Regions from separate parts of the Homo sapiens genome. Here regions 2, 3, 4, 5 and 6 are each reported to be linked to region 1. Evidence: microRNA targets listed by miRTarBase, many of them from high-throughput screens and not tested one by one. Region 1 holds a microRNA gene; each other region holds the end of a gene's coding sequence.
The links. Region 1 holds the annotated microRNA hsa-miR-6781-3p (UGCCUCUUUUCCACGGCCUCAG, at 2,663-2,684, shown strand). A microRNA usually pairs through its seed, bases 2 to 8, with sites in the 3' UTR of a target mRNA and lowers its output. Matches are read on the target gene's strand: a 7mer-m8 pairs with bases 2 to 8, a 7mer-A1 pairs with bases 2 to 7 and ends in A, and an 8mer does both.

Region 2: the mRNA of FAM83D is a reported target of hsa-miR-6781-3p. The part of its 3' UTR that is shown has no 7-base or 8-base seed match.
Region 3: the mRNA of BLVRA is a reported target of hsa-miR-6781-3p. The part of its 3' UTR that is shown has no 7-base or 8-base seed match.
Region 4: miRTarBase lists SURF6 as a target of hsa-miR-6781-3p. Seed matches in the 3' UTR shown: 7mer-A1 at 2,927-2,933.
Region 5: miRTarBase lists C21orf91 as a target of hsa-miR-6781-3p. Seed matches in the 3' UTR shown: 8mer at 25-32.
Region 6: miRTarBase lists VTA1 as a target of hsa-miR-6781-3p. Seed matches in the 3' UTR shown: 7mer-m8 at 4,020-4,026.

The regions. Positions count from the first base shown.
Region 1 is chr17:42,821,322-42,826,563 of GRCh38, reverse strand. It overlaps MIR6781 (microRNA 6781), which reads left to right and starts at 2,621; the gene lies at 2,621-2,684. BECN1 (beclin 1) reads left to right here and starts at 2,282. Exons shown (of 12, transcript NM_001313998.2): 1 at 2,282-2,409; 2 at 2,685-2,816. The coding sequence starts at 2,687. RefSeq lists enhancers at 1,353-1,919, 1,924-2,053, 1,920-2,488, 2,489-3,055.
Region 2 is chr20:38,951,673-38,956,914 of GRCh38, reverse strand. It overlaps FAM83D (family with sequence similarity 83 member D), which reads right to left. Exons shown (of 4, transcript NM_030919.3): 4 at 3,809-5,242. The coding sequence ends at 4,395. Among named protein-coding and RNA genes, the nearest start is that of DHX35, 8.0 kb to the left of the region's middle.
Region 3 is chr7:43,806,127-43,811,368 of GRCh38, forward strand. BLVRA (biliverdin reductase A) reads left to right here. Exons shown (of 8, transcript NM_000712.4): 8 at 851-1,216. The coding sequence ends at 1,109. Among named protein-coding and RNA genes, the nearest start is that of BLVRA, 50 kb to the left of the region's middle. RefSeq lists an enhancer at 4,663-4,762.
Region 4 is chr9:133,328,017-133,333,258 of GRCh38, forward strand. SURF6 (surfeit 6) reads right to left here. Exons shown (of 5, transcript NM_006753.6): 4 at 4,532-4,744; 5 at 760-4,332. The coding sequence ends at 3,853. Among named protein-coding and RNA genes, the nearest start is that of SURF6, 5.6 kb to the right of the region's middle.
Region 5 is chr21:17,789,306-17,794,547 of GRCh38, forward strand. C21orf91 (chromosome 21 open reading frame 91) reads right to left here. Exons shown (of 5, transcript NM_001100420.2): 5 at 1-4,276. The coding sequence ends at 4,110. C21orf91-OT1 (C21orf91 overlapping transcript 1) reads right to left here and starts at 3,204. Exons shown (of 4, transcript NR_038871.1): 1 at 3,172-3,204. The region is part of intron 2 of LOC124900465 (a long non-coding RNA gene); the gene reads left to right. RefSeq lists an enhancer at 4,655-4,824.
Region 6 is chr6:142,217,845-142,223,086 of GRCh38, forward strand. It overlaps VTA1 (vesicle trafficking 1), which reads left to right. Exons shown (of 8, transcript NM_016485.5): 8 at 654-5,242. The coding sequence ends at 799. Among named protein-coding and RNA genes, the nearest start is that of LINC02919, 39 kb to the right of the region's middle.

The DNA.
Region 1 (5,242 bases):
GACAGGAGAATGGCGTGAACCCAGGAGGCAGAGGTTGCAGTGAGCCGAGATGGCACCACTGCACTCCAGCCTGGGCAACAGAGCAAGACTCCATCTCAAAAAAAAAAAAAAAAGTAACTACAATAAGCAAATACATAGCAAAAAGTTCAGCCTTACCAGCAATCAATGATGCTAATTAAAATAACAAGGAAGTGCCATTTTTTGCTTTTGTTCCCCAAATATATGATACCCAATACTGGCCAAGGCAATATGAAAACAGGCTTCCTCATACATTACTGGAAGCAGAATATAGTTATGTGCAAGCACTTTGGAAAATGATTCCCAGTGTTAAGGAAGAGACATTAAATAGCTGACACACTCTTAATTCTGTAGTCCCAGTTATGAGTCTCTATCATAAGTAGCCAGCTCTTCATTGCAGGATTATTGTAATCACCCACAGGGGAAATAGTAGAATTTCCAGCGGTAAAAAAATACACTAAGGCAGTACATTTAGTGTAGTGTAATGTAGCCATGATAACTACAATAACTGTGTAGCAACATAGAAAAATGTTAAATTTAAAAAGCAGAAGCCTGGGCAACAAAGTGAGACCCCATCTCTTTTTTTTTTTGAGATGGCGTCTCGCTCTGTCACCGAGGCTGGAGTGCAGTGTGAGACCACATCTCTACAAAAAATTTTAAAAATTAGCTGGGCATGGTAGTGATCACCTGTGGTCCCTGCTACACTGGAGGTTGAAGCAAGAGGATTGCTTGAGCCAGGAAGTCAAATCTGCAGTGAGCCATGTTTGTTTGTTCCGCTTCACTCCAGCCTGGGTAACAGAGTAAGACACTGTCTCAAAATAAAAATAAAATAGACAATACTACATACAATTTTGGGTTAAGCAGTGGTTTCTTTTACACCAAAAGCATAAACATTGGACTTTATTGAAATGAAAAACTTTTGGCCAGGCACATTGGCTCACACCTGTAATCTCAGCACTTTGGGAGGCCACAGTGGGGGATTGCAAGGGGAGATGGGAAATGTTCTAAAACTGGATTATGGTGATAGTTGGGCAACTGTGTAAATTTACTAAAAATTATTGAACTGTACATTTAAAAAGTGTGAGTCTTATGGTATGTAAATTATACCCCATAAAGTTGTTTTTAAAAATGAAGTAAGTCCCTCTGCTCAAGACCCAGTCATCTCATCTCATTCAAAGTGAAAGCCAGAGCTTTACAATCCCTATAAGAGCCTAGGTGGTAGCTCAACACTCTTACCTCCCTCACCCCATTTTCTGTATCTCTTTTCGTTGCCCATCTTCTAGCCACACCAGCCTCTGCTAATCCCCAAACAGGTACCCTCTGTGCTCTTGCTGTTCCCTTGGCCTAGAATGCTCTTCCTTAAGATGCAGGTAAGAATTCCTTCCTCACCTTCTTCAAGCTTTTATTTGAATATCACTTTCTTTTTTTGTTGGTTTTGTGTGTGTGTGTGGGGGGGGGGGGTTTGAGATGGAGTTTCCTTCTGTCGCCCAGGCTGGAGTGCAGTGGCATGATCTCGACTCACTGCAACCTCCGCCTCCGGGGGTCAAGCGATTTTCCTACCCCAGCCTCCTGAGTAGCTGGGATTACAGGCGCACGCCACCATGCCCAGCTAATTGTATTTTTTAGTAGAGACGGGATTTAACCATTTTGGCCAGGCTGGTCTCGAACTCCTGACCTTGTGATCCGCCCGCCTCGGCCTCCCAAAGTGCTGGAATTACAAGCGTGAGCCACCATGCCCGGCCTTTTGTTGTTGCTGTTGTTGTTCTGAGATGGAGCCTTGCCCTGTCGCCCAGGCTGGAGTGCAGTGGCCCGATCTCGGCTCACTGCAACCTCCACCTCCCAGGTTCAAGCGATTCTCCTGCCTCAGCCTCCCGAGTAGCTGGGATTAAGCTGGGATTATAGGCGTGCCCCACCACGCCCGGCTAGTTTTTGTATTTTTAGTAGAGACGGGGTTTCACTGTGTTGGCCAGGCTGGTCTCGAACTCCTGACCTCACGTGATCCGCCCTCCTCGGCCTCCCCAAGTGCTGAGATTACAGGCGTGAGCCACCGCGCCCGCCGCCCCCTGAATTTAGAGAATAGCGGAGCCTCCCCATTCTCTGCGGCCTTGGCTCCTACACTTCCCGTGGTAACCTTGTTCATCCGCTGAAGCCCGCTGCTTTTCCCAGCCCGGCCTCTGGGGGCCGCTGCCGGGCCTGTGAGCCTGTGGACCAGGAGCTCCTGCTGCCGTCGTAGCGTCACGTCCGGTCTCGGGCGGAAGTTTTCCGGCGGCTACCGGGAAGTCGCTGAAGACAGAGCGATGGTAGTTCTGGAGGCCTCGCTCCGGGGCCGACCCGAGGCCACAGTGCCTCCGCGGTAGACCGGACTTGGGTGACGGGCTCCGGGCTCCCGAGGTGAAGAGCATCGGGGGCTGAGGTGGGACCTTAGAAGGGAGTCTGGGAACCCTCACGGCTCTTATTGGAGTCCCTTCCCTGACCCTGGGCTCTAAACTGCCTTTGCTCAGGCTGTCCCGGAAGCAGGTCCTCCCCGTATCATACCATTCCTAGAGGGAACGGCGCAGGTTGGGACTTCCCTCCCTTTACCATCGTCACCAAGGCATGTGGTAACCCCGGGCCGGAGGTCAAGGGCGTCGCTTCTCCCTAATGTTGCCTCTTTTCCACGGCCTCAGGGATGGAAGGGTCTAAGACGTCCAACAACAGCACCATGCAGGTGAGCTTCGTGTGCCAGCGCTGCAGCCAGCCCCTGAAACTGGACACGAGTTTCAAGATCCTGGACCGTGTCACCATCCAGGAACTCACAGGTCAGCGAGACCCTTGGAAAGAGGGTGGTCAAGAATGTGGAAGGTGGGCAGCTTTGGTGATATAATTCTTATGGTGGCTGTGTAGTCTGCCACAAACTCATCGTGTGAACCTAGGAAAGTCACTTCATCTGGCTCCCTGTTTTCTCCTTGGAAACATAAAGCATTCTGACATTGTGGACTTCTGAGAGCTTTCCGACCGGGCGCGGTGGCTCACGCCTGTAATCCCAGCATTTTGGGAGACCGAGGCGGGCAGATCACCTGAGGTCAGGAGTTCGAGACCAGCCTGGCCAACATGGCGAAACCCCTCTCTACTAAAAATACAAAAATTAGCCGGGCGTGATGGCACGTGCCTGTAGTCCCAGCTACTCGGGAGGTTGAGGCAGGAGAATCGCTTGAACCGGTGAGGTGGAGTTTGCAGTGAGCTGAGATCGCACCACTGCACTCCAGCCTGGGCAACAGAGCGAGGCTCCGTCTCAAAAAAAGAGAGCTTTCAGTAGCAAAAGAAAGATCCTTATTTTCTGCTCCTGCTGTTTCAGAGAAAAGGAATATGTATATATAATAATAAATGGTATTTTTTGAGGACTTACTATATAGTAATACCAAGTGCATTACACGTATTACTTCATTTAGTCCCTGTAACAACCCGTACGGGGTATACCGTCATTACATCATTTTTCAGATGAAGAACCGAGGCACAGAGAGGTTAAGTGACTTACCTAAGGTCCAACAGCTGGTAAATGGAGTAGAGTCTTAAAGTCTGAAGAATTTGCTGGATGTGATGGCTCACGCCTGTAATCTCAGTGCTTTGGGAGGCTGAGGTGGGAGGATCGCTTGAGCCCAGGAGTTCAAGACCAACCTGAGCAACCTAGCAGAGATCTTGTCTCTAAAAAAAAAAAAAAATTGCTGGGTGTGGTGGGTGGTGGAGGCTGAGGCAGGAGGATCACTTGAGCCCAGGAGGTCAAAGCTGCAGGAAGCTATGATCATGCCACTGCACTGCAGCTTGGGCAACAGTGCAAGACCCTGTCTCAAAAAATAAATTAATTAAAAAGGCCAGGAGTGGTGGTTCACACCTGTGATCCCAGCACTATGGGAGGCTGAGGCAGGTGGATCACTTGAGCAGGAGTTTGAGACCAGCCTGGGCAACACAGTAAGACCCTGTCTCTATAATTAAAAAAAATAAAAAACCCCAAAATCCCGCAAAGTCAGAAGAATTCAGATTAAGTCAGACAGTAAAAGAGAAGACTGAATAGGCAGCTTAAATAAGCTTATGGGCCTGGAGTCAGCCTGCTTGGGTTTAAATCCTGGCTGTCATTTACTAGCTGAACAACTTTTTGCAAGTTACTTCATTTCTCCAAGCCTTGGTTTCTGATTTTTTCTGTAAAACGTTAAACTGCCTCATAAAGAATTTATAAAGTTCAAATATGACAAACCACAGAAACACTTAGGAATTTGCTGGGCAAATAGTATTCAATAAGTATTAGCTGCTATTATTACCTGGTTTCTCTTTCTTGAGGGGAAATTAGCTCTTTTTTTTGTTTGTTTGTTTGAGACGGAGTCTCACTCTGTTGCCAGGCTGGAGTGCAGTGGCGCGATCTCGGCTCACTGCAACCTCTGCCTCCCGGGTTCAAGTGATTGTCCTGCGTCAGCCTCCTGAGTAGCTGGGACTGCAGGCACACACCGCCACGCCCAGCTAATTTTTGTATTTTTAGTAGAGACGGTTTCACTATGTTGGCCAGGATGGTCTCGATCTCTTGACCTTGTGATCTGCCCGCCTCAGCCTCCCAAAGTGCTGGGACTACAGGCGTGAGCCACCGCGCCTCTTAAACTCTTTTAATAACAATTTTTGACTTTTTATTATGGAAAATTTGAGACATATATAGTCAAGAGAATAGCATAGCCTGCCTTGTATTCATCATCCAGCTTCAATAATCAGCCATATTCTCACATTCTTATGTTGTCTACACCTCCATTCACCTCCCATCCTCTGCTCAATTATTATGTTTTTCACACCTTTTTAGAAAGGTAAATTGTCATGACTTGAAATGTATGAATCTTAGCTGTACATTTTTGACAAATGGATACACTGATGTAATCTGGATCGTTGCAATTTAGCAATGTTTCATCTTCCTAGAAAGTTTCCTTATGTTCCCTCCTTGCTATTCTGGGGGAAACAGGATGTTTGCTTTTGTGATGGAAAATTTCAGAGTATATCATGAACTCCTGTGTACCCATCACCTAGTTGCAACAATTATCAACACATATTTAATCAAGTTTTGTCTACAGCCCCATCCATTCCTTCCCACTCTGAATTGTTTTGAAGCAAATCCCAAACATAAATACTGTAAATATTTCTGTATTTTTGACAGATAAGGATTCTTAAAGATAAATGATACCGGCCGGGCGCGGTGACTCAGCCTGTAATCCCA
Region 2 (5,242 bases), not on the chromosome of region 1:
AATGGTGTATCTGACCAGGCTTCTCTGTATTCACTATTGGAAAGCTTAAACGTGTGGCCTCATGAAGTAGGTGTGTATGTCATGGCGGGCTCTTCAAGCCTCATTCCAGACTCCACTTTTTATCCCTCACCCTTGGGTTTCCTTCATGTAACTTTTCATTTACACGACCTTGTACCCTAGCTTTTCTTGTTAGTCGCTTTAAGTCCCATAAGTAAACGACAGATACTCCCCAGCCCAACTGCCTACAGAGGTGGGGTGGCCGGCCACCTCTTCAGTTGATTCCTTTAATAGGAGAATGTCAAGCCTGCATGGATCAACCTCTAATTCAAACAAACCATCAGGGGGAGAAAAAAATTAGACAACTGAATTTAAACACTGAATATTTATTTGATAAGTTTGTATCAAAGTTGTTTAGGTGTGACAGTGGTAAAGTGGTTTTCTTTTTTGTTGTTGTTTTGAAACAGAGTCTCACTGTCACCCAGGATGGAGTGCAGTGGCGCAATCTTGGCTCACCACAACCTCCACCTCCCGGGTTCACGCCATTCTCCTGCCTCAGCCTCCCGAATAGCTGGGACTACAGGCGCACACCACCATGCCCGGCTAATTTTTGTATTTTTAGTAGAGACGGGGTTTCACTATGTTGGCCAGGCTGGTGTCAAACTCCTGACCTCGTGATCCACCCGCCTTGGCCTCCCAAAGTGCTGGGATTATAGGCATGAGCCACCGCGCCTGGCCATGATTATGTTTTCTAAAACAGTTATCTTTTAGATATATATGCTGAAATATTCACAGCTAAGTCTGCGATGGCCAAATCTGACAGTAGACAGAGGGATATAATTTTCTCCCAGGGAGGAATAACAAATATTTTTGAACTACATAGGCTGCCACACTCATACCCCGCTCCCCTGGGAGTGAAACCAGTAATCAGCATTTTAAATGGAAGCACCCAAGCACCCCAAGACTGATGCAGGTGGTCCTCAGATCTCACTTTGAAAAACTCTGCCATATAAATGATACTTTCTGGACTCAACTCCAGAAAGACTGCTTACTTTGAGAGACTGGGTCATTTTCTTAGGACTCCATGTATCTCTTGCTCTTATTTCTTTTTTTTTTGTCTTTTTTTTTTTTTTTTGAGACGGAGTCTCGCTCTGTCGCCCAGGCTGGAGTGCAGTGGCGGGATCTCGGCTCACTGCAAGCTCCGCCTCCCGGGTTCACGCCATTCTCCTGCCTCAGCCTCCCAAGTAGCTGGGACTACAGGCGCCCGCCACTACGCCCGGCTAATTTTTTGTATTTTTAGTAGAGACGGGGTTTCACCGTTTTAGCCGGGATGGTCTCGATCTCCTGACCTCGTGATCCGCCCGCCTCGGCCTCCCAAAGTGCTGGGATTACAGGCGTGAGCCACCGCGCCCGGCCTTTTTTCTTCTTCTTCTTTTTTTTTTTTTTTTTTTTTTTTTTTGAGACGGAGTCTCACTCTTTCGCCCAAGCTGGACTGCAGTGGCGCTATCCCGGCTCACTGCAAGCTCCGCCTCTTGGGTTCATGCCATTCTCCTGCCTCAGCCTCCCGAGTAGCTGGGACTACAGGCGCCCACCACCACGCCCGGCTAATTTTTTGTATTTTTTTAGTAGAGACGGGGTTTCACCGTGTTAGCCAGGATGGTCTCGATCTCCTGACCTCGTGATCCGCCCGCCTCGGCCTCCCAAAGTGCTGGGATTACAGGCGTGAGCCACCGCGCCCGGCTCTTGCTCTTATTTCTAATTGTTGGCCACACTTTCAGAGAATAATGGTTTTGAGTCCTGCTCCACAAAAAGAGCACTCTGTGGTAGGTAGTTTGTGGTAAGCCATATACCTGCCCTGCTCTGAGAAATTCACTGTGATCATTACTTCAGAGTTCTGAGTAGTCCTGCATTAAAGAACTTTGTTTACATTTCTTTGGCCCAGTTTCTCACACTAAACACAGAACCTTTGTTATGTCATCCTATTAACAGTTCCATAGAACATTCAGTTAAAATTTCAAACTAAATTAAAATACATTATCACAGGCTGAATGCAGTAGCTCATGCCTGTAATCCCGGCACTTTGAGGGGCTGAGGCAAGAGGATCACTTGAGCCCAGGAGTTTAAGAGCAGCCTAGGCACCATAGTGAGACCCTGCCTTTACAAAAAAATAGTGAGCTGTGATTGTGCCACTGCACTCCAGCCTGAGCAATAGAACGAGACTGCTTCAAAAACAAACAAAAAGAAGTATCACAGATTAGGACTTTGTACTTACTTTTTTTTGTTGTACTTTGCTTTTTTTGCTGTTTTGTTTTTGTTTTGTTTTTTTTGAGACAGAGTTTGGCTCTTGTTGCCCAGGCTGGAGTGCAATAGCGTGATCTCGGCTCACCACAACCTCCGCCTCCCAGGTTCAAGCAATTCTCCTGCCTCAGCCTCCCGAGTAGCTAGGATTAGGGGCATGCACCACCACACCCAGCTAATTTTGTATTTTTAATAGAGACAGGGTTTCTCCATGTTGAGGCTGGTCTCAAACTGCTGACCTCAGGTGATCCGCCCACCTCAGCCTCCCAAAGTGCTGGGATTACAGGCGTGAACCACCGCGCCCAGCCTGTACTTAACGTTTGTTAATGAGGCTGTTTTAGTTTTCCATTCACCATTGCAGTAACTGCCATTTCTCAAGGTACACTCTCTCCTGCTTCCATACTCCGTGTAGAGAAATAGTCATGTAACAGAGTACTGCACTTAGAATCTAGAAACCTGTGTTTAAATTCTTGCATCACCATTTACAAGCCATGTCATCTTGAATATGCTACTTAATCAGTGCCTCAGTTTCATCTGAAAATTGGAAATAACAGCTACCTAACCTGCATAGCTCTCTGCTACATTGCTGCAAAGATCAAAGATGGCATATATGAAGTGACTTAAGTCTGTAAGATGATTTCAAATAACAATATGTTTACTCGAGGCTTAGCTCAGAGTTGTTTCTAAGCAGACATGGATCAATTTCCTTCCTTTCCTTTTCTTTATAGCCACAGATTACAGCACTAACCCAGCAAATAGCCTGACCATCATAAGGAAGTCCTGGCACACGCGTGAGTGTAGGGACACTCATGATACAAGTGCATCAGCATTTTATGTGGCAGACACCTTCCCCTGTTATAGATCTTTTTTGCTGTAGCTAAGTCAGGAGAGGGAGGAAGGCATCATTTAACTCTCTTCCCTTTTGTCTGTCCATGAGAATGAGACAAAAACAGGATTCCACAGCCATACCAATCCTGATTAGAAGGATGTAGAAACCATTACACTGCCTGCCACTGGACCAGGAAACTGGGATAATTGTCAGTGTCCTCTTTTGCCCCTACTCTGGGATATTAGATGGCTAAATCACTGTCAATACACCCAGCTGATGAAATGAGGCCCATGGGGCCACCAGAGTTAATATTGGGAATGAATATAGGAACATACACTAACGCCTCCTTTGGTAGACAAGCAGAGTACCAGAGTACCAAGGACCTACTGAAATAGCTCAGGCTTTTTCTTCGAAAAGAGAAAAGGCAGAGCATGTGCAAAGGCCTGCTATTTCTGGCCAGTTTCCTCACTTAAACTATAGAGTAACATCAATATTCATGATGCTGAGGAAGGTTAAGTGGATCTATTTTCTCTTCTATAGTTTGGATCATCTACTTCTTCCTCACCCTGACACTATTTAAAAAACCTTCAGATATAGATATCTATATACCTATATCTATTAGGTGCATTAATTTGTGACATACTCCCAGATTTAAAGAGAAAAGTGTCAGAGGGGGGGAAAAAGTACAGAAGCACAAGTTTATATTTATTTAATGCTAAGAACACAGATATTCTAAAGAGATAAACAGAAAGTAGTTTTATTTTTTCTAAATAGGATTTTGATCACAAAAATGCTGGTGATTCAAACCTTTAAAACAGAAGAGCATACAACCTAAGAAAAATGCAAAACAGGCTACAAACCTGTACATCATGTTACTGCACTGAATACTGTAGGCAACTGTAACATAATGGTATTTGTATCTAAACACAGAAAAGGTATAGTAAAAATACAGTATTATAATCTTATGAGACTGCCAACATATACGTGGTCTGTCATTGACCAAAACATCATTATGTAGTGCATGACTATTAAAATTGTGCAAAACAAACCCCTGTATCCATAGTGTTTAAACCATAAAACCAATACCTGGTATATACATGACAAAACAAAGCATGTAAAATAATATGCAGCCTAAAGAATTCAAAGACAACAAAGGTGACAAAGTCAGGTAAAAGAAAGGCAATTAGGGACATAAGATATTTTTTAAAGCAGGAAGCTGATGATGTCCACTGTAAGCCTGGAAGAAACCAGGAGTCTGAACACGGAGCAGTTACTGATAGGAAGGATAAAGTGCTACATCTCTAACAGCAAGCAAATTAACTCTGCTGAAATTGCCAGAATGAAGGCCAAGGTGGTTTTCAGTAAAGAGTGTTCTCCTTGACAGCATAGCCAGCATGTGGTTGAGCCGGGACCTGATACCAGCGAAGTGGAATTGCCGCTCTTTGTTCAAGTTTCTAAGTGAGTCACTCAAGTACAGTTCCAGGTGGGGGGTGCCCAGGTACTTGGGATAGCCAGGATTGTGGAAGTCAGTGGTTCTGATGGAAGCGGGAGAACCAGTGGAGCTTGCCACAGAGCCTTGGGAAGACACAGAGGAGGAAGACTTCAAACTGGAAGATCTCGATACAGACATTTTTGAGACTGGTGACCCTTCTGTAGATTGAGTTCCTCGAGGAAAGAGAATGTTCTCATCCATGTCAGTCTGAGTAGTGGTCGATCTGGACCAAATCGTGGTTTGAGAGCTTGCTATCCTGGTGATGACTGCAGTCTGGGTACCAGCACATGCTGTGGTGATGCTGGTTTGTGTTCCCACCTCACTCACACTCAGCCCTGGCATCTCCTCTCCTGGCTCTGTTTGAGTGGCAGCGTCAATGGCCTTTCTGCTCTGGAGCTCGTCCCTGTGGCTGCTGAAGTAGTCTTCCTCACTAACAGTAGAGGACTCACAGTCATGGGGCTTGCGCTCTGCCTTGCCCTCTGCGGGCATCTCTGGGTCCAGGTCCGCCTTCCTGGGAGTACTTGACAGCCTAGCCAGCCGCATCCGCAGCAGGTTGCCCAGGGTGAGCTCCTTGGACTGTGGTTTTCGGTTGGTGAGGTGATCAAACTTGTTGCTGCTCTGGAAGT
Region 3 (5,242 bases), not on the chromosome of region 1:
ACATGGTGAAACCTTGTCTCTACTAAAAATACAAAAATTAGCCAGGCGTGGTGGCAGGTGCCTGTAATCCCAGGTACTGGGGAGCCTGAGGCAGGAGAATCGTTTGAACCTGGAGGCAGAGGTTGCAGTGAGCCGAGATTGCACCACTGCACTCCAGCCTGGGCAACAAGAGCAAACATCTCAAAAAAAAGACATGAGAAATTTTCTTAGGCAGACTACGTAGAATACCTCAAGTTTATTTTTATTCAGTGCCAAAATAAAAGTTAATCTTTGTTGCCATCTCCCAGAACATTTGCTAGACTGTACTATGAGCTTTTAAAACTAGTCATGGGAGGCCAGGTGCAGTGGCTCACGCCTGTAATCCCAGCAGTTTGGGAGGCCAAGGCAGGTGGGTCTCTTGAGGTCAGGAATTCAAGACTAGCCTGGCTGACATGGCAAAACCCCATTTCTACTAAAAATATTTTTTTAAAAAGTAGCCAGGCATGGTGGCAGGCGCCTGTAATCCCAGCTACTTGGGAGGCTGAGGCAGGAAAATTGCTTGAACCCAGAAGGCAGAGGTTGCAGTGGGTCGAGATTGCACCACTGCACTCCAGCCTGGGTGACAGAGCAAGGCTCCATCCCAGAAAAAAAAAAGTCACTGAATGAATTCCCCTGCCTGATGGCAAAATTAAATTAAAGACTGTTTGGCTGTGAGGTTGACACAGTCACCCACAGCCTCTGGGAGGCTGGTGGCTGCAAGGAGGATGGGTGCCTGACAAGGACATGTTACCAGGCGGTCTGGTGCCAGCAAGCACCCACTTGTGCTCTTGTGTAATCTCTAACATGATTCTTTTGTCTTTTGTCTTTGCAGTCCACTGTCATGGATTGAAGAAAAAGGACCTGGTCTAAAACGAAACAGATATTTAAGCTTCCATTTCAAGTCTGGGTCCTTGGAGAATGTGCCAAATGTAGGAGTGAATAAGAACATATTTCTGAAAGATCAAAATATATTTGTCCAGAAACTCTTGGGCCAGTTCTCTGAGAAGGAACTGGCTGCTGAAAAGAAACGCATCCTGCACTGCCTGGGGCTTGCAGAAGAAATCCAGAAATATTGCTGTTCAAGGAAGTAAGAGGAGGAGGTGATGTAGCACTTCCAAGATGGCACCAGCATTTGGTTCTTCTCAAGAGTTGACCATTATCTCTATTCTTAAAATTAAACATGTTGGGGAAACAAGAATCTTATTGTTATGAGCTATGTTGGGATATTTGGGGTTAGGGGCTATGCAGTGGGGACAAGGCGAGAATGAGCGTTGGTTGAGCTGAGCTAAATGCTTTGTATGTCTGATTTCACTTACTCCTCCTAACAGCCCTATGAGATGAGTACTAGCAGGCCTCTTTTTTTTTTTTTTTTTTTTTTGAGAGTCTCACTGTGTCACCCAGGATGGAGTGTAGTGGCACCATCTCGGTTCACTGCAGCTTCCACCTCCTGGGTTCAATCAGTTATCCTGCCTCAGTCTCCCAAGGAGCTGAGGATTACAGGCGCGTGCCTAATCCTGGCTAATTTTTGTAGTTTTAGTAGAGATGAGGTTTCGCCACGTTAGCCAGCCTGGTCTCGCTCGAACTCCCAACCTCAGGTAATCCACCTGCCTCGGCCTCCCAAAGTGCTGGGATTAGAGGCATGAGCCACCATGCCTGGCACCAGGTCTCTTTTCATTGTATACTAGAAAATGTTGTTTGAACAGAACCCTCCGAGATGATAGAGTCACCGCCCTTCTGCTCTCGTGTTCTCAGCTGCCCTATCTACCCTGCAGGTTGCTGCTGCTGCTGGAGCCCACGCAGGTCATGTGCCACTGTGGCATTTCCTAAACACTCCTGCCTCTGAAGGTGGCACCCCATGCCCCAGTCACAATTCTTTCAGAGTGTCACAGAAGGAAAGAATCCACATGTATTCCTCAGCAGTCTGTCCCTCTGTCCAATTTGAAGAAAAAAAAAGCCCTTAATCCCGCTGTACTAATGCTCCTAAGTGTTGAGGGGTCCTTCAGGAGGGCCTTGTGTCTCCAGGCAAGAGTGACCACAGAGGTGCCCTTTGCCCCTCAGCCCCTCTCCCTGTGGCAGCAGTGACCTGCCTGTCTGGTGAAGCTGGAAAAGGGACTAAACACATGACACCCAGCCACCTTCTCCCTCTGAACCGACATCCTTAGGATGCACCCAAGCTTGTCCACGTGGCAGGTGACTAAAGCAGACTCTTCCTCTGCAAGTAGGTGACCTGCAGCTGTGATGAAGAATTGAGTTACCCTAAGACAGGGCAGTTACCCTAAGACAGAGCCTAAGACAGTTACCCTAAGACAGAGCCTAAGAGTTACCCTAAGAGTTTAAGAGCCTAAGACAGAGTTACCCTAAGGTGGAGCCTAAGAGTTATCCTAAGACAGAGTTACCCTGCAGGGAGCCAAAGGCCCGCGGGACGTGACCAACTCAGCATTCCGCTGGAGGCTATATGATCAAACAGCGAACTGTTTATCATGAATGCAGGATGTGGGCAAACTCACACTGCCTTGCCACCAAAATGTTTGCTGAGGGACATCATGCCCTGGCGCCGGGCTCCTGGAAGTTATCTATTGAGAAATCTAGCGCCTATTGTTCACAAGCCCGCTGTGAACCAAACGGCTGACTGACAATTACCCGACAACCATCCTCCCACTTTCTTGCTGTCTCTTTCACCTAATAAATACAGAGGGCTGTGTAAAGCTCACGGCCCTTGTCCACTAGAGGCAAGATGCCCCTTGACCTCTTCTTCCAAATATACTCTTTTGTGTCTTGTCTTTTATTCCCACATTCGCCCCCCTTTGTTCAGTCCCCCGAGGTCCATGCAGGTTACAAGTGGCACCCCAAACAGCAACAGGATCGGGTGCTCTGCATAGTGGCATCCGAACACAGGACTTCGAGGACATGAATGAAGAAAGTCCGCTGGAGCAGAGGAACTGAAATTGACAAGGCGAATGGGGACCCCGAAACGAGTCTGCCAGCAGCAGAGATAAGGTCAGTGCCCTAAAGAGGTACTGATCAGTGCCGTAAAGAGGTACTGGGAGCAGTGCTTTAAAGAAGTACTAGGAACAGGAAGTTTTCTGAATCAGGCTAACAAGGGGAAGAATTTGTCTATTGAAGAAAAACATTATGTGCAGTTGCTTAAAGTTCTGTAGAGACAGTCTGGAGCTTAGGTTAATTCGCAGACACTAACCTCCTGCAGAAGCCACAAAAGGTTATTACGCATAACCCATGGTTCCCACAGGCAGGCATCCTTGATATGGAAAATTGAGACAAAGCAGGAGAAGGATTAAAACAGGCTCATCAAAAAGGTCTTAGCTGATTCTTAGTTGATTCTTCTGTTTTCTCCACTTGGAGTTTAGTTTGTACTGTACTTCTACCATTATCTCCTTATTATTCTGTGGGACAACAGCCTGAATCTAAAAATCTGAAAGAATATGTTGTCCCACCCACAGCTCCAATTGAAAATAAAAAACAGAGAGGATAAAAATTGGCCTATACCGCCTCCTCCAATTGCAGAAACATCTGTACTGCCTCCTTCAGTAGCACAAATAGAAACCCCAATACAAAGAATTTTACGCTCTGCTGTCATAGCTGGAGAGCCCTTAGGACCTTGCGCTGTTCCTGTTTCCATAAGGCCTGATCCCAATAATCCACAGCAGTTTATTCATGAACACACCCCACTAGAATTTCAGTTGTTGAAGGAATTAAAAACTAGTGTGGTCAATAATGGAGTACAAAGCCCATGGTTCCCAGAGGAAAGAACACTAGATGTAGAACTCTGGGAACAAGTGGGGAGAAATCTTAAACAACATCAGGTGCAAAGGCATCAGGTCCCAGTAAAATCTTTAATGTTATGGGCTTTAATTAGAGCAGCCCTGGCTCAGTTACACACAGAAGAGCCTAAAAAGAGGAAGGAGGAGAAAATGTCACCTGCCTTATCACCTCCTCTTCCCTCAGTCCCAATATCACTGGGTCAAAATAACAGGAAACGGAGGTCTCACCTAAGTCTCCTCCTCCAATAGATAGGAAAAAGGACAGAGGATATGCTATAGCCATCAGTGTGTTAGATATGAGTTCTAAATTTCTCTTTAAAGAATCAGTATGTCAGTATGTTCAATTCTTTGCCTTCTACTTGTAAACTTAACTTCCTCATAAAGCAACCTTTTTCGATTACCTGCTCCATCCTGACTCATTCCGATTTCCTGCTCTGCCATAACCATTTTTCCCGCCAAACCACTCACCCTGTCACTCTCTTTAAATTAGCCAGTTGGAGTTAGTTTGGCCTGTGTGGTCTAACCCTAGCCAATAGGGGAATGACACAGCAGCAGGGGCCATGTGCATCAGGGATAAGAACCCTTTCCCCTCCCTTGTCCAGGTGTGCACTCAACCATTGCTCCATCTGTAAGGGCGCACCCTTCTGTAGAAGTACATTGACTTGCTGAGAATTAAAAAGAAAATTTTATATTCAAGTGCTATTTCTTTTGCGGCACCGAAACTTTACTTAAAACAACTTGGGGGCTCGCCTGTGATTACATTCCCCTCCAGGGGTAGTCTCAAGTCCTCTCTCATGAGGAGGCGCGCCCCGCCCCCTTGTGGCAGCCTCAGGGGTGAGAAATTAGGACCCACCCAGTGCAAGGAATAACCCGAGCTCTCAGCAAAGCAAAAAGAAACTGGCCAGCAACCTAGCTGGATCCTCCATAATGGCCTCCCTAACGGCCATGCAAGTCTGTGCACGGACGGAGGAAAAGACACCACGGGAGCCGGTAAAGTATATCCTTGGTGGTCAGGACCAAGGTAAGAAAGCCGCGGGGGGGCAATGAAGTACTCCTTGGTTGGGGTAGCATAGAGGTTAAAAAGAGGCAAGACATCACACAAACCTCCAGTAGTAGAAAAGGCAAGAAATTTCCAGGGGGGAAATTGAGCTCACCCCAAAAGGCAAGAGATTTCCAGTGGGGAAATTGAGCCTCACCCCAAAAGGCAAGAAATTTCCAGTGGGGGAAATTGAGCCTCACCCCAAAAGGCAAGAAATTTCCAGTAAGGGAAATTGAACCTTGAACCTTAACCCAAAACCATCAAGATGGGAAATACCCCAAGCAAGACAGGGAGCAAGATAAATAAAGATGGTAACAAAGATATCATCCTGGATGGCCCCCTAGGTCTCATGTTAAAATACTGGAAGGATAATGAAAGGACTAAACATAGGAAAAAGCAACAAATG
Region 4 (5,242 bases), not on the chromosome of region 1:
CAACGTTCACAACTTTCCATGTGACTTCAGCACCCTGCACCCCGATCCTTTCCCTGGCCACTTTGCAGGACCACTACCTATGAGACTATGGGTTCCTTGAGAGCTAGGGCTGGGTCTCATTCGCTCCTGAAACTTTCACCCAGCAGAGTGATGGCCCACGCCATGCATGACATGCGTTGCTCAATGACTGCATCCACTCAGCCAGTATGCCAGTCCCCACTGAGCCTCACTCTCAACCTCCCTGGCTGGCATAGGTTCCTTGTGCAGACATCCAGTGGCAGTAAAATATTGCTGGGTTCTCAGCTTCCCCCACCTGCAGCCCTCACTGGCCCACCCAGTTGTCCTGTCTCTGCTCAGGACGAGACCCCCCCCCGCCTCTTCAGTCTCTGTAGCCAGGTGATGGCAGTGGCCTTTTCCAGACCCTCACTGGCCCCTTAGTTCACTATGATGACTTCACCTCTTGGGAACCCATGGGGATGTCTTTCCCTCCAATACATCTACATTTGCCTGACCCAGAATGTAGTTTCAAGATGGGTCCATGCCTGGCTCCAAATCCCCTTATCAGAGTAAGGAAATACCTTAATTCCTAGTTTGCTAAAAACTCGTTATAAATGGCTGTCGCGTCATTTACTGTGTTCCTGTTCTGCAACCATTGAGATGGTCACGTGGGTTTTGCTCCTTTAATCTATTGATATGAATTACACTCTTGATTCTCTGGCATTGAAACTGCTTTGCAATTCTGAATTAAATCCAGTGTGGCACTTTGCTAAACTTGGTTTATTATTGTCTAAAATCTTGACATTGGTATTTGTAGGGACCAGCCCCACAGGGTCCGTGGGTCTCTCCCTCCCTGTGTGCAGCAATGAGAGAGTGTAGAAATACACACACAAGACAAAGAGATAAAAGAAAAGGCAGCTGGGCCCGGGAGACCACTACTACCAATGCTCGGAGACCGGTAGTGGCCCCGAATGTCTGGCTGCATTGTTATTTATTGGATACAAAGCAAAAGGGGCAGGGTAAAGAGTGTGAGTCATCTCCAATGATAGGTAAGGTCACGTGGATCACGTGTCCACTGGACAGGGTGCCCTTCCCTGCCTGGCAGCCGAGGCAGAGAGAGAGAGGAGACAGAGAGAAAGACAGCTTATGCCATTACTTCTGCATATCAGAGACTTTTAGTACTTTCACTAATTTACTACTGCTATCTAGAAGGCAGAGCCAGGTGTACAGGATGGAACATGAAGGCGGACTAGGAGCGTGACCACTGAAGCACAGCATCACAGGGAGACGGTTAGGCCTCCAGATAACTGCGGGCAGGCCTGCCGGATGTCAGGCCCTCCACAAGAGGTGGAAGAGCAGAGTCTTCTCTAAACTCCTCCAGGGAAAGGGACACTCCCTTTCCCGGTCTGCTAAGTAGCGGGTGTTGTTCCTTGATACTTTTTGCTACTGCTAGACCATGGTCCACCTGGCAACGGGCGTCTTCCCAGACGCTGGCGTCACCGCTAGACCAAGGAGCCCTCTGGTGGCCCTGTCCGGGCATAACAGAAGGCTCGCACTCTTGTCTTCTGGTCACACCTATGTCCCCTCAGCTCCTATCTCTGTATGGCCTGGTTTTTCCTAGGCTATGATTATAGAGCGAGGATTATTATAATATTGGAATAAAAGGTAATTGCTACAAACTAATGATTAATGATATTCATATGTAATCATATCTAAGATCTATATCTGCTGTAACTATTCTTGTTTTATATTTTATTATACTGGAACAGCTCGTGTCCTCTGTCTCTTGCCTCGGCGCCTGGGTGGCTTGCCGCCCACAGGTATTTGGTAACTTCCCTTTCTCTTACCTAGTTTTGGTATCAAAGCTAAGTTCACGAATGAAGTGTTCTCTCAATTGATTCTGTTAGAATTTGTCTACGTCTGGAATTACCTGTTCTCTATATCGTGGAACTTCCCTGTAAAACCGTCTAGGGGAACATTCTTAACTACTGACTCAATTTCATCAGTGATTACAACTCAGGCTTTCTATTACTTTTAGTCAGTTTTGGAGATTTTTCTTCCATTTACTTTGAGTTGTTCCAACTTAAGCTGCATGCTTATTTTTCTTTAGCTTTAAAAATACAGACATACAGCGTATGTGTGTATAAATGGCACTATTTATCTGTAGATGCACATACATTTAGGGGCTATGTTTTTTTGTGCTGCTTTAGCTCTGTTCCACAAATCTTAAATTTTTTCTTTTTGAGACAGTCTTGCTCTGTCACCCAGGCTGGAGTGCAGCGGCTCGATCTTGGCTCACTGCAGCCTCTACCTCCTGGGTTCAAGTGATTCTCCCGCCTCAGCCTCCCAAGCAGCTGGGACTACAGGTTTGCACCACCACACCCAGCTAATTTTTTATTTTTAATAGAGATGGGGTTTTATCATGTTGTCCAGGCTAGCCTTGAACTCCTGATCTCAAGTGATCCACCCGCCTCCCAAAGAGCTGGGATTGACAGCATGAGCCACCATGCCAGGCCCTGTTCCACAAATTTTAATACGTAGCATTTTCATTATCCTTTAGTCCCAAATATTTCTAATAGCCATTCGGAATTCTTTAACTCATAGGTAATTTATAAGTGTGTTTTAAAAATTCCAAATATGAAATGCCACTGCACTCCAGCCTGAGTGACAGAGCAAGACTCTATCTAAAAAACAAAAAAAAATAGCTCAAATTTTTTTTAATGACATTGGGATACGGTCAGATAACGACACTGATTCCTTGAAATATCTTAAGACTTCTTTTCTGGACAAAGTAGGTGGTCAGTTTCCATCCATGTTCCATATATGCATGGAAAGAGTATGTATTCTTTTCAGATACTGTTGTGTCTGTCTCTCAGCTCAAGCTCATGCTCACCTCACATCCTATCTTTCACAGGGCTTTTTCATCAGTTGCCTCTGTCTGGTAACAGTCACACCAGCTCCTGTTCAGTTACAGTCTTTGTCTCATAACCGGAGAGTTTCATCAAAAGAATTTTATTTACAGCTTTATCATCCATATGCCACTAAAATTCACCTGTTTTCTTTCAACCTGCACTCATTTTGATTGCCTGGAACTCTGGATTTAATTCTTCCATCCCACTTTGTATCTTGCATTCACTTCACTCTCTCTCCAGCTTTTATTCTTTCTTTCTCTTTCCCTAGGTCCAATGCACTTGACCCAACTCACATGCGTGGACTCCGGGAAGGTACTGCTCCCTCCCTCCAAATTCTGAGCAGTAAAATGCCGCCCCGGGGCACTGGGGAACAGAAAGGAATGAGACCCCAACAGGCAGAAGCCAAGAGAGCGGGGAGGAGCCATGGCGTTCTGCCCCAGGATGCACCACGCCTGGACGTGCTCCCCCGACTCCCAGTGCCAGGTGCCCATATGCCACACCTCAGGGTTGTCCTCTGTTCGGGTGAGCTGCGGACTAACGTGGCCCGGCAGCAGAGGCCACCGTCTTCTGTCCCGTGGCTCCTGCGAACACAGGCAGTGGGGAACAGGCAGTGACTGCCCACCCCCACCGTTCCTCCTCCCTGACCCTGCAAACCTCGGGGAAGCTTTCAGGCCCGGGAAAGCAGACCAGGCCCCAGTCTCCCTCACCCTTTCCCTGGGTCTGAAGGTCCCGGATCCTGCGTTCAAGGATGACGCTGAAACTCTCTCTTTCTCACATGGGATCTGTGATCTGGGCCCTCACAACTCAGCAGAGCACCACTGTGTCCCCCTCACATGGAGAGGCCGAGGTCTGTGGAGATCCTGGGACAGAGCCAGCGTCAAGGACTCAGAGGGTGTCCTGGAGTCTCCTAGGACGGAAGACGGCGGCCCCAGGTGGGAAAGACTCAGACCAGGCCTGCGCGCTCCAGGTCCTGCGGCAGGATGCGGCCCTTCTTGCGGGCTCTGAGCAGGCGGCGCTCGGCGCGGGCCGCCTTCTTCCTGCGCAGGTTCTGCCGCCGCCGGTCCTGGCGCTGCTGCATCTTCTCCACCACGCCGGCCGTGCGCTTCTCCCACCGGCGCTGCCGCTGCGCCCTGCGCTTCTCCTTGCGCTTCAGGGCCTCCTGCAGCAGGCGTTCGTCGTCACGGATCTTCACGCCCTCCGCCTTGTAGAGGAGGTTGGTCCACTTCATCTTCGCCTCCAGCTCCTGCGCCTTCCCCTCATCCTGGCCGCGCAGCTCGTCCAGCCGGCTCTGCCGTGCCTGCAGGCGCTCCAGCAGCTGCCGGTAGTTCCTCCCGGTCAGCGGCGTGAGGTTCCCCTTCACCCTCTGCCTCTTCTCTTTTCTGCGCTGCGCCTTGCTGGCCGGCTCGTCTTCGCTCACCTCCACCTGGGAGGAAGGTATGACATCAGCTCATGCCAGCCCTGCACTAGGCCCCAGCCTTGGCCAGTACCCTAAGGGACCTGCGAGGTCCCCGTCACCACCTTACAGACATGATGGGGTTCGGAGAGAGATCATGAAGCTAACAAGGGGCAACGCTGAGGCCTGAAGCCGACCCAGCCCGCCCAAGGACCCAGCTCCCGCTCACCTTATTGAAGATCAGCCCGGGCGGCTCCCGCGGCTCCGTGCAGGCCCCCTCTGGGGTTGCCTCCACCACCTCCTGGGCCTCCGTGGCCTCCTCAGCCTTCCTGGCCTTCTCTTTCGCCCGCAGCTCCTTTCGCTTCCTCTTCTTCCGGTCCCGTTCCTGCTTTCTCCGCCGCCTTTTCTCCAAGGCGGCAGGGGACAGCTCCTTGGCACTGCCCTGGGGGAAAGAGGCACCCACTCATTAAAGTTCTCTCGATCCCAGGGTCCCCCAGCCTGGCCCATAGTCGAGAAGAATCAGGGCTGGAAGGCAGGTGAGAAAATCCTCACGCAAACAAGGGGCCCGCGGAGTTCAATGTTCCACCATGATGTTCCCCAAAAAGCAAATGACCCCAAAAGAGAGAAGGGACCCCCAAATAAGAATCACAGCTTCCAATTCCCGGGTGCTTACCCCGTGCCAGGATACATTACGCACATGGTTTCAAATGTCATACATCGTTTTATAGATGAGGAGGGTCAAGACCACTGCCTAGAACTTGGAGTTGGCGTCTGAACACCTGTCCTGACCGCTGCCCATTCTGTTCACGAGGTACCCAACGAAGCCCTCCCCAATGGCCTTTCCCATCCCCGGGCCAACAAGAGCCCTACACCAGCCCAAACGAGACCTGTGCTTCAGGAACAAGGGCCCAGAGCCTTGCTCACCTCTTAGGAACCACAC
Region 5 (5,242 bases), not on the chromosome of region 1:
GTCACTACTTAATACTTTCTAAATTGCCTCTTTTGGAGGTACGGTGAAAGAAAAACATTCTAGATGCGTCTGAAAGAAACAAGGTACACACACTTACTAAAATTCCCCTTTGCTTTAGGTGTAGTTGAGGGAAGTTCAACTAATCTTTAAACCTTTTTTGGGAGAGGGCAATACTCATCTTCATGAATTTTTGTTTACTTTGGTAAACTTAAAATTGTGAAATAATTAAATATTATTAAAATGTATTAGTAATGTGGACTCAAACTAAAAAGAACAGGGAAAGTGTATGTTAACAAACTAGATGTTTTGGAGACTTGATATAATATGGTTCATATCAATGTTACCATAGCCAGAAGTTGCTTAATAGGTTAGACTGCACCATAATCAAGGCAATTATGAAAGGATGAAGTGAAATGAAAATACTGAGATGCAAGCATTATAGCCCTCCTCCAAGTTACCTTTATTTTGTGTGAGGGCTCTAGTATTCTGGTAAATAAACTCTTCCCTGCCCCATGACCACAAAACTTTACTTGGTAAGAATAAACTGTTGGGGGTTTTATCTCTTACTAATTCTCACCACAAATTTCCTCAAATAGTTACTCCCACCAACGTAAAAGTTAAAAATACAATCATACACTGAAACGGCATCAATTATCTTTGCCTTACATCTGAACAAAAAGTATTAACTTTTTTATAGCGTATTACACTTCTTAATAAGCACTTAGTAACAACATTTGTCAGTAAATGAACTGGCATACATCAGAAAAAGTTGACAATAGAAGAATTTTACATGGTACCATTTCAAATTTTCATGTACAAGTAACCCACTTTATGGTCACTAACCTGAACCTCCTAATAAGCTACACAAATAATTTACTCTTTAAAAATTCCTACTTTAGAGCATTTACATTTTATAATTTAATAATGAAAGCAGATTCTTCCAAAACAAAACAAAACCCAAACTGGGAAACATTAAAACACAAATAGATCTAAAAGCTTACTTTAAAAAAACTACAAAAATGGACTAACAAGCCTTACCAGTGTAAACACTAAGGTAAAAAATATATAAACAACATAAAGAAAACACAAAACCATTTTCAGTCATAAATATAGTAAAATGAAAAACCAAATCTCAAGATGCCTGTCAAGATATATTTGACTATATATTTTGACTATATTTCTGAAATCACTAACATGAACTTGACATTGAAAAAATAATCCTTAAATGTATATAAAAATGGGCACTTTGTGGTAAAATGAACATGTGTTTTGAAAAACTAAGAATGTGTCTTTGCTCCACCATTGTGCATAGTCAACGACACAACAAAACACTATTCTGCTGCCTGAATCATCTATTACTGGAGTCTCAAGTGCATGCCTTTTAAAAAAGACTAATTTAGATATTAATATGAGGATCAAAGGATAAGATGATAATCTCAAAGTAAAACATAATTGATTTTTAGCTTCATTATAAGGCTGAACTTTAAAGAGAACAACCTGTGTGGTCAAAAACACTTTTCTAATTTTTAAAACTCAATTTAACGTGTCAAATTATAAAACTGAACGTGAAAAAGATTTGTCTTATCTCACTCCCCTTAATCATATAAGCTCTGAAAATTTAGTAATGGATGACTGGCAGTCTGTTTTGCCACTTTTTAAACAGTAGTACATGAGATATGCTTCAAAACATTCTCAAAAATTACTAACAACTGTAGAGAATAGCCAAGTGTGGAAAACAATATTTGTGATATTTCATGTTCTCTTGTTAGAACTCAACTCTGTACCTGATACTTATATTTGCATACACAGTAATTGCATATTTGATTAAGAAAACTAACATAGGACTAAATTATAAGTTTACCAAACATTTGGATAAACTGCTGTGCAAAATACTTCAACAAAAAGTTTTTTTTACTAGGAACTCATCCAAATAAAGTAGTGTGAGTACCAGCACCACAAAGTTTTTTTTAAGAGCACCTCTCCTTTTTAGAGCTTAAGTAGAAATATCTAAATGGAATAAATCAGAGTCCCACTTAAGACCTTAGCACATGCACACGTTCATCCACTTGTTCCGTACTCATTAGCAAAGCTATGTATATTTGTCAGAAAACTCCTTTCTTTGGATAACACTGTTGTATTCAGGACTGCAACTTATGGCTCATATTCTGGAAATATGCTACTATTGATATCAAATGCAACATATCCCCAACTTTTATGACTGTCCCTAACTCATCTAAACACAAACCCAAATGTGTGCAAACACACTGGCTGGTAACAATCTTACTGAATTACGCCAAAAAAGAGTAAAGTCAAATTTGAAAATGTGGGAACAATTAAGCACTAAGATATTAATCAGGAAATGTATTTACCCAGCTTGTAAGTTTGAATATTTTGATATTGCACACATTTAATTTAAAGCTCATCAAAACTAAGGCAATGCATCCATACTCCCTGGATTTTAAATTCATTTTGCATGACTTAAAGAATTGAGAGAAATCGAAAGCATCTTTCAAAAATTCCCTCCAAAAAGTAATGTTATACTTCAAAGAAAAACAAAATCAACAGATATCAATTAATACCCTCAGGCCAATTTAACACGTCAGCATTACAAAAAGTTGTTTTCAATTAAACTGAAGTGTTTCTTTGCTTAAATACTTTCTTGTGTTCAACAACAAAATCTGACCCAAGCCAGGGTAGGCTGCCAAATTTAAGGCAAATGTCATTTATATCTTTATGCATGAAGCTGCCACGTTACTGGGCTTTTCAGCAGATACTTTCAAGCAAGGATCTACCTCATAAGTACATTCTAAACATGAGTTAAAAACAGAATTTAGAGCCCATTTTAATTCTGCATTGGTTATAGCCTTTACTGTAATACATTATTAAAATTTATCTAGCTGTTTGGCACAATCTGTTAGATAAAAACTCTTTGGAAGCATCATAGGCAACTTACGAGAACATTCTCTTAATACATAGGTTTATTTTTTTTTAATTAGGAGTTTTGCTTTTCTTCTGTAGAACAATCCTATATTTCTCTATAGAGTCTAAAGTTTAGAAAAATACCTCACAATGCTTTCTTTGAGCACTAAGTTCAATGATGGTGATAATACAATTTGGACAGTTTAAGTATTCTTGAAACTTTACCCAAAGTGGCACACAAAATAATCTTACTTTTTTTTTTCAAAGACAGAACAATTTCACAGCACACTCAATTTGAAGATAGACATTATATTTGAATTGGAAGTGAGGCTTGACTTACTCTGTCCAAATTCTAATGCATCACAGTCACTGGTGTGAAGCTAATAATGAAAGAAGCAAGAGGAGGCTTTCATTTCTATGGAGACAAATTGACATAGAAGCCAGATTAGTCTTTTCTTCCTGAACTAAGAACTGCTTTTGTTAGAAAACAAAATAATGTATTGTATTTACCTGAATACTGCTTTAAAAAGTTATTAATTCTTCTTTTACAAGAGGTATTAGAAATTAAAACAACTCAGATTTCTAATCCAAAATATATTTATCTTTGGAAAGCAAGGTAACCGTTGTGAAAACATTGTATTAAGAGAATAAAATGCAGTGACCTGAAATATGGGTGAACATATTCACACATGATAATGTAAATAAATATACAGAACCACTCAAATACACATTTATAAAGAGAATGGCAAAGTACCTAAAATAGCATTTTCACATATAAAATTTTTATATTAAAATATTGCTCATAATAAATAAGAGGTGATATGAATTCCATTTCCCTCTTAAAAATTATCTCTAGTAGTTTACACTAAGGAGTTAATCTGTTGTTTTGACAGGTGAATTAAAATGTTTAATAAAATGACACTGTAACAGTATATTTAAGTAGTCACATGTGATAAAATTTGTTTAGTAATTCTGGGAAAAAAGAGTCCCCAAATGAGCCAAAATGATTAGCCCTAGAAGACTAGAGTATAATGATCTGCTTTATTTGACAAAGATGTTAAATACTGCCTTATGTTTGGCAAATTTAATGACCATAAAAAAACGGACCACAACTTTCTTCAAACTTCTTCAAAGTTTGCATGTCTGGGAGACCAATAAAGGGCAGGGCATACGAAGTAAGTCTGTTTAGGTCAGTTGTTTATGGGTAGGTGCGACTTCATTCCTGTTCGCCCTACTTGCAGACATGGTAACTTAGAACAGTTCTTCAGAAGCTGTTCGATGGCAACGTGGCGGACATGGAGCTGTGAGGCCAAAGAATCTTTTTCTTGCACTTGGTGAGTTAACTCTTCAAAAACTTCTGTAAAAGATTTAAAAACTTTCATTTTTAGTATGCAGAAAGCCGGTGCTATGATTTATATTTCAAGAACTCTAACTGAAATCTATGCATTGGGCAAAGTGTCACAATGAAACTGATTTGATACCAAGGAAACAGTTCTGTTCTCTACAAAGCATATCAGTTCTGATCATCCTAGGCATCTGTATACTTTACATAGCCAAATGGAATTTGGCTCTTCTCCATCAAGTGACTACAGAGATACACAGCAAAAATGGTGGTTGCTACTGTAGCTGAGCTACTTTTCTCAATTAGAATCTATAAACAGATTCAATTAGTACATAATGTGATTTATGGACAAGAAGTGCCTGTTAGTATTCAGGTCTGGAACCCCCTCTAAGAGGCTTTGGAATCAGACTACTAAGAGTTTTGAATCCTTGTTCCTACTCTTACGTGCCTCAGGCAAGCAACTTTTGGTTTCAATTTCCTTTTCTGTGTAACATTAATAATGATAGTAAGCACTTCACCAGGCTACTGTAAAAATTAAATGAGATCATATTTGTAAAGTACTCATAAATTTCTACTACAACTATTATTGTGATTATTTTTATTATTCTGAGAGGCTGTGTGGTTAAGCTTTGGAGTTTAAATCCTTGATCTGCTACTGATTGGATGCATGATCTCTGTAAGCAACTTAACATCTCTGAAGTACAATTTTCTCATCTAAAAGGAAATAAATTGAAAAGGAGACAACTGCGGAATCTGAACATTACTTGTTAGTGTTAGCATTATACTTGATGACGTTAAGGAATTATTAACTTTAAATGGTGTGATAATGAGACTGTGACTGTTTTTTAAAAAGTTATCTCTTTTAGAGGAAATCCTAAACTATTTATGGACAAAAAACAGTGTGTTAGCTAGGATTTGTTTGAAAATAATCCATGCTACTGGTAGTGCAATGGGAATGGATGCAAGTAGAGATACTGATTA
Region 6 (5,242 bases), not on the chromosome of region 1:
TTTTTAATGTTTTTTTTTTAAACTGAAATTGTTTAGTTGGGCACTACATGTTAATCATATGTATAACTAGAAAACTTGCTAAGAATAAATTTTAGAGAAATAATATGTAATGGTTGTTTACATGTTTAATTGTATATTTCAGTGATATAAAATTTAAGAAACCTTAAGAAATTTTTACATGGATGGCACAAACATGTAAAATACTCTCATGCTTAAAACAAGCTAAGCAACCTGGTTTTCTTTACATAAAGTTTGTTATTCACTTTTTTTTTATTGAAGGTGATACTTACATTCCAGCTCAAATGAGGGTTGAATTGGTTTAGTCTGTGTGTATTGTTCCATGAAGAGAGAGGCTAAGTGATTTTAGCATAGACACCAAAGCTGCTATCCTTGTTTGTCCTTATTGCTTCTTGAAGGAAAATCTTAATTCATCTAAGTTATTATGTATTGCCGTGTCTGTGGTTTATATTAGTAATAAAAAGACAATTGAAAAGAATGAAGAAAATGTATCAAAGTTCATGTGAGATTGACTAAAACTACTGTTTTTACATAGCCTTAAATATGTTTTTTAATCTTAAGCATAAGCATTTGCCCAACCTTACAGAACACTTTTTATATTCTTATAAATATCCCAATTGTTCTTTTTCTTCTAGGGGATGTTCGTCTAACCCCAGAAGACTTTGCTAGAGCTCAGAAGTACTGCAAATATGCTGGCAGTGCTTTGCAGTATGAAGATGTAAGCACTGCTGTCCAGAATCTACAAAAGGCTCTCAAGTTACTGACGACAGGCAGAGAATGAAGCCTTTGTATGACAGACCCATGTATTTTTGGCATGAGGAACTAACAGTCCATTACTCTATCTTCAGCCTATCAGGATCACAGTTTTAAGGAAGACTTGGTTTTGTTGAATATGACAATGAAATCTGTGTGTATCAGATTTTTATTGAAGCATTCATCAGCAGCCTCAACCAGTTTTCATTGTCCATTTACTAGATTCAATCGTCTCTGAGTATATAGGGCTGATGTTAGCAAGACCCTAAAAATGTCCATTGAACCCTGCTTCAAAAAATGAAAACACACCTCTATAAAATGTGTACTGGGAATAAGCTTTGTATTTACATACATTAGGGGAATTTTTTAAAATCTGTAATGTTTGGACAAACAGATGATATTACTTTGCTATAAAATTATAAATGTAACTTTTAATAAAGATAGCCAGAATATTCTAAATTAGAAATTACGTTTTTGTTTCCCTCAAGACATAAAACAAATATAAACATTCTAAACTGCTGGATGAATCTGAAAAGACATTAAGTTCAAATTTTAATTTATTCTCATATTAAATATAACTCCATTAAAAGTTTAAAATTTCATGGGAGAAAATATAATAAGGTAAAGAGGTAGAATCACTTTCAGACTTAAGAATAATGTTGATTTCCCAAGTGCTTTACCTTATCTGTTAAAGCGTAAGATGAATTGGTATTTGCTTCATAGGCAGTTTGACTGCATGTATTAGAGAATGAAAAGAAGATATTTGTAGTAATGCCTGGAAACTTGGTGCTTTAAATTAAGGTACTCCTCTGCTGCTGTAGAATGGATTCCACACAGTGGATAGCTATGGGTGATTCAGAATATTATGTTTAGATTCCCATTTGTTAAGTTTATAAGTTTTGTGGGGAATTATGAACTTACTGTGTACTACCTGCATTTGTGCTGTGTGAAAAATAAATACAAGGATTCGTTTAGCTAATTCAACTTACTACAAAGACAAATGTCTGTTTTTATTTGCCTGCTAGGATTGTCTTTTTTAAAAGTCATTTTTATTTATAGGAATATGGGTGTTTCTATAGGAAGAAACAGGTTTTTTGTTTTTTGTTTTTTAAGATAAATTTGACAAAGTTAACTGAAATTTATCTGGTCCATTTTATTCATGCTACTAAGATGGGAATCTTTAAACACAAGGGTCAGCAAGCTTTGGCCCATGGATTGGCCACCTGTTACGTAAATAAAGTTTCTTTGAAACAAGCCTACACTCATTCATTTATGTTTTGTCTGTGGTTGCTTTCCACAACTGCAGAGTTGTATGGCTTGCAAGTCTAAAAACATTTACTATTTGGCCCTCTAAGAAAAAGTTAAGACACCTAGTCTAATGGCCTTTTGGGAAAAAACAAATCACTAACTCATAATCATTTATATCCATTATTTTCTGCATAAATGTAATGCTATTGTACAGGGTTTGGTAGAATAAATATTCAGACTGACTAAACTGTTCTAAATCCTCACAAAAAAGTCCCCAAACAACATGCCTCCTAAAAAACATTTTCCTATCTTTTACAAGAGGTATGAACATTTGTAGGGTTCCACATTTGCATCTAGAAATCCAATGCTCTTTAGAATGTTATTACGAATAGAAAGATGGCCAGGATGACCTTTAGTGTTACATGATGTTCAGCAAATTTTAATTCAAACCTTGATATGCCTGGACACTGAAAAGTAAACGCATCACCTCCTATTTTATACCCTACCTTCTGGTTCCCAATTGGGAGAGCACATAGAGGGAAGGAGACAATATAGAAACTACGGAGTCCGCTGGTAGTGGGCTGCATGGTGTGACAGAGCCCTTCTCTGTAAAATGGAAATGACACCACTAGCCATCTCAATAGTTACAAGAATTAAAAGAGATACAGTACCTGAAGTGCTTAGCGCATGGTAGCATTTCATAAATGTTTAGTGTCAATACTAATGCTCTAATAATGTAAATTGTTAATAATTTATTTCCCTAATATCAGGAAATCCCAGTTGTCTATGTGGCCCAGTGCTTAAAAACGCCTTCTTGCATGAGGGGATTGAACTATACAATGTTTGTTAACTTTGTATTTGTATTTTTTCCTATAAAATCTTAAAATAAAATTAGGAGATGTGTTCTGATGTAACAGTAGGATTAGCAATTTTCATTTATTCCTTCCATATATATTTACTGAATGGCTACTATATGCCTGGTATTGTTCTTTGAAAGCAGAAACAGCAGGAAAAAAAGTCCCTCCCTCATAGAGTTTACATTCTAAAAGGGAGGAAATAGATAATAAAATATACATTACATTTAATCAGTGGCTCTCCGAGTGTGATTAGAAATACAAATTTTGGGCCCCACCTGTCCTACCCAATCAGAAACTCTAGGGATGGGTCCCAGCCTTCTGAGTTTTAAGAGACACTTAAGGTGGTCCCTAAAGTTCGAGTGGTTTAGCTCTACCCAAATCAGAAATATTGCAAGTCTGAGAAAAGAGATTCTCCTCAAACCGGTTCTCAAAGGTGTCTCTGGACGACCGGCATCAGCATCACCTGCGAACTTGCTAGAAAGTTCTGGGGACCACACTATGGGAACTTCTGTATTAAATAGTGATAAATGCTATGGAGGAAACATTGAGGACAGGATAGGAGATGCTTAGGTGTGTACAGACATATGCATATTTCAATAGAATAGCCAGGATAGACCTCCCTGAGGTAACATTTGAGCAAAGAAGGAAAAGAGTAACTAGTATGCAGATACATACATGGAGGAAGAGCATTCCCAACAGGTAGACAGAAATCAGGTCAGAGGGTAAAAGCAGGAGAAAGGCTGGTGAGGGAGCTAAAAGCTTAGGATCATAAAGCTTTTTTGTAAGACACTTGACTGGGAGCTATATGGAAAGGTTTTCAGAAGAAACGTAGCCTGATGTGACTTAACTTTTGAAATAATCATATTGGCTCCTATGTTGAGAATAGACCGTAAGGTGGGTGGTAAGTAAGGGAGGAAGCTGGGAGACCAGTTAAAAAGAGTATTAACAATAGGCCGGGGGCGGTGGTTCGCACCTGCAATCCCAGCACTTTGGGAGCCAAGGCAGGCGGATCATCTGAGGTCAGGAGTATATATTTATTAATATATAAATATGTATTTATATATAAATCATAAATATATTAATAAATATATAATATATATATTAGCCTGGCATGGTGGCACATACCTCTAATCTCAGCTACTGAAGAGGCTGAGGCAGGAGAATCGCTTGAACCCAGGAGGCGGAGGTTGCAGTGAGCCGAGATCGTGCCACTGCACTCCAGCCTGGGCGACAGAGCGAGACTCCTTCTCAAAAAAAAAAAAAGTATTACAATAATCAAGGTGAGATATTATGATGTCTTAGTCCAGGAGTAGCCTTGGAGGTAATAAAACGGGATTGGTTTCTGGCGGCTTTTTTTTAGGTAGAGCCACAGGATTTCTGTAAACTGGATGTGAGGTACGAACATAAGAGAAGGAGTAAAGGTTGACTCCAGATTTTTCACCTGAATGCCTGAAAGGAATGAGTAATCATGTACTGCAGTAGGGAAAGTTGCCGAATTCCTCTCTCACTTAGACTGAAGTACAATGTTTCCAAGTTTTTGTGACCAGCCCAAGTGAAACTGATAACGGTGTTTTGTCAATGCGGCAGAGGGAGAAGAAGAAATAAGGTTCTGCTGACAATGATTGCCACAGATATCTCACCAAATCACTGCTGAACTGGAGCTGCAAGCCAAGAATAGTTCCCATGGTTAGCATGGCCTAGGAAGTTTACTGACATCAGGACTACACCAAGAAAAAGACTCCAGTTATGGGTCTTGAAAATTAATATCCTCAGATGTTTTTAGAATTTATATATGACTTGTAATTCTAGAAATTTGAGAATTCTATGTATGCATTGAAAGATTATATACTGTCTTTTCTAAAGAAACACCCTAATAGCAGCATTGTACAAATATTTTCAACTCTAAAAGAATAATAGCTAATGGAGTTGATGGGTTTTGGTTTTCATATGAGAAGTATCCTTCCCTGGTTGGTTGTAATCTTTGAAGTCTATGTGGAATTCTAAGACTGCAGGCTTGTTCATTGGAGTACACTTAAGTAGGACAAATTCTAAGTAAGCAACACTTCAATAATAATCATAATAGCTAACATTTCAATGTTTACTAAATGTCAGATACTATTCTAAGTATTTTGCATATATTAATTCATTTAATCTTCACAGTGGTCCTGAGAGGTAGGCTTTATTTCTGTTTTAAGATGAGGAAAGGGAGCCACAGAGTAACAAATTTGCCTAAGGTAACACAGCTAATATTTATTTCTAAGCTCAGACTGCCTGTTTCAGATCATAAGAAGTATCATCCATGTCAGTAAGTCACCTGTTACATTGTAAGTACAATGAGATGTTATGAGTTCCACATTATCAAGGTC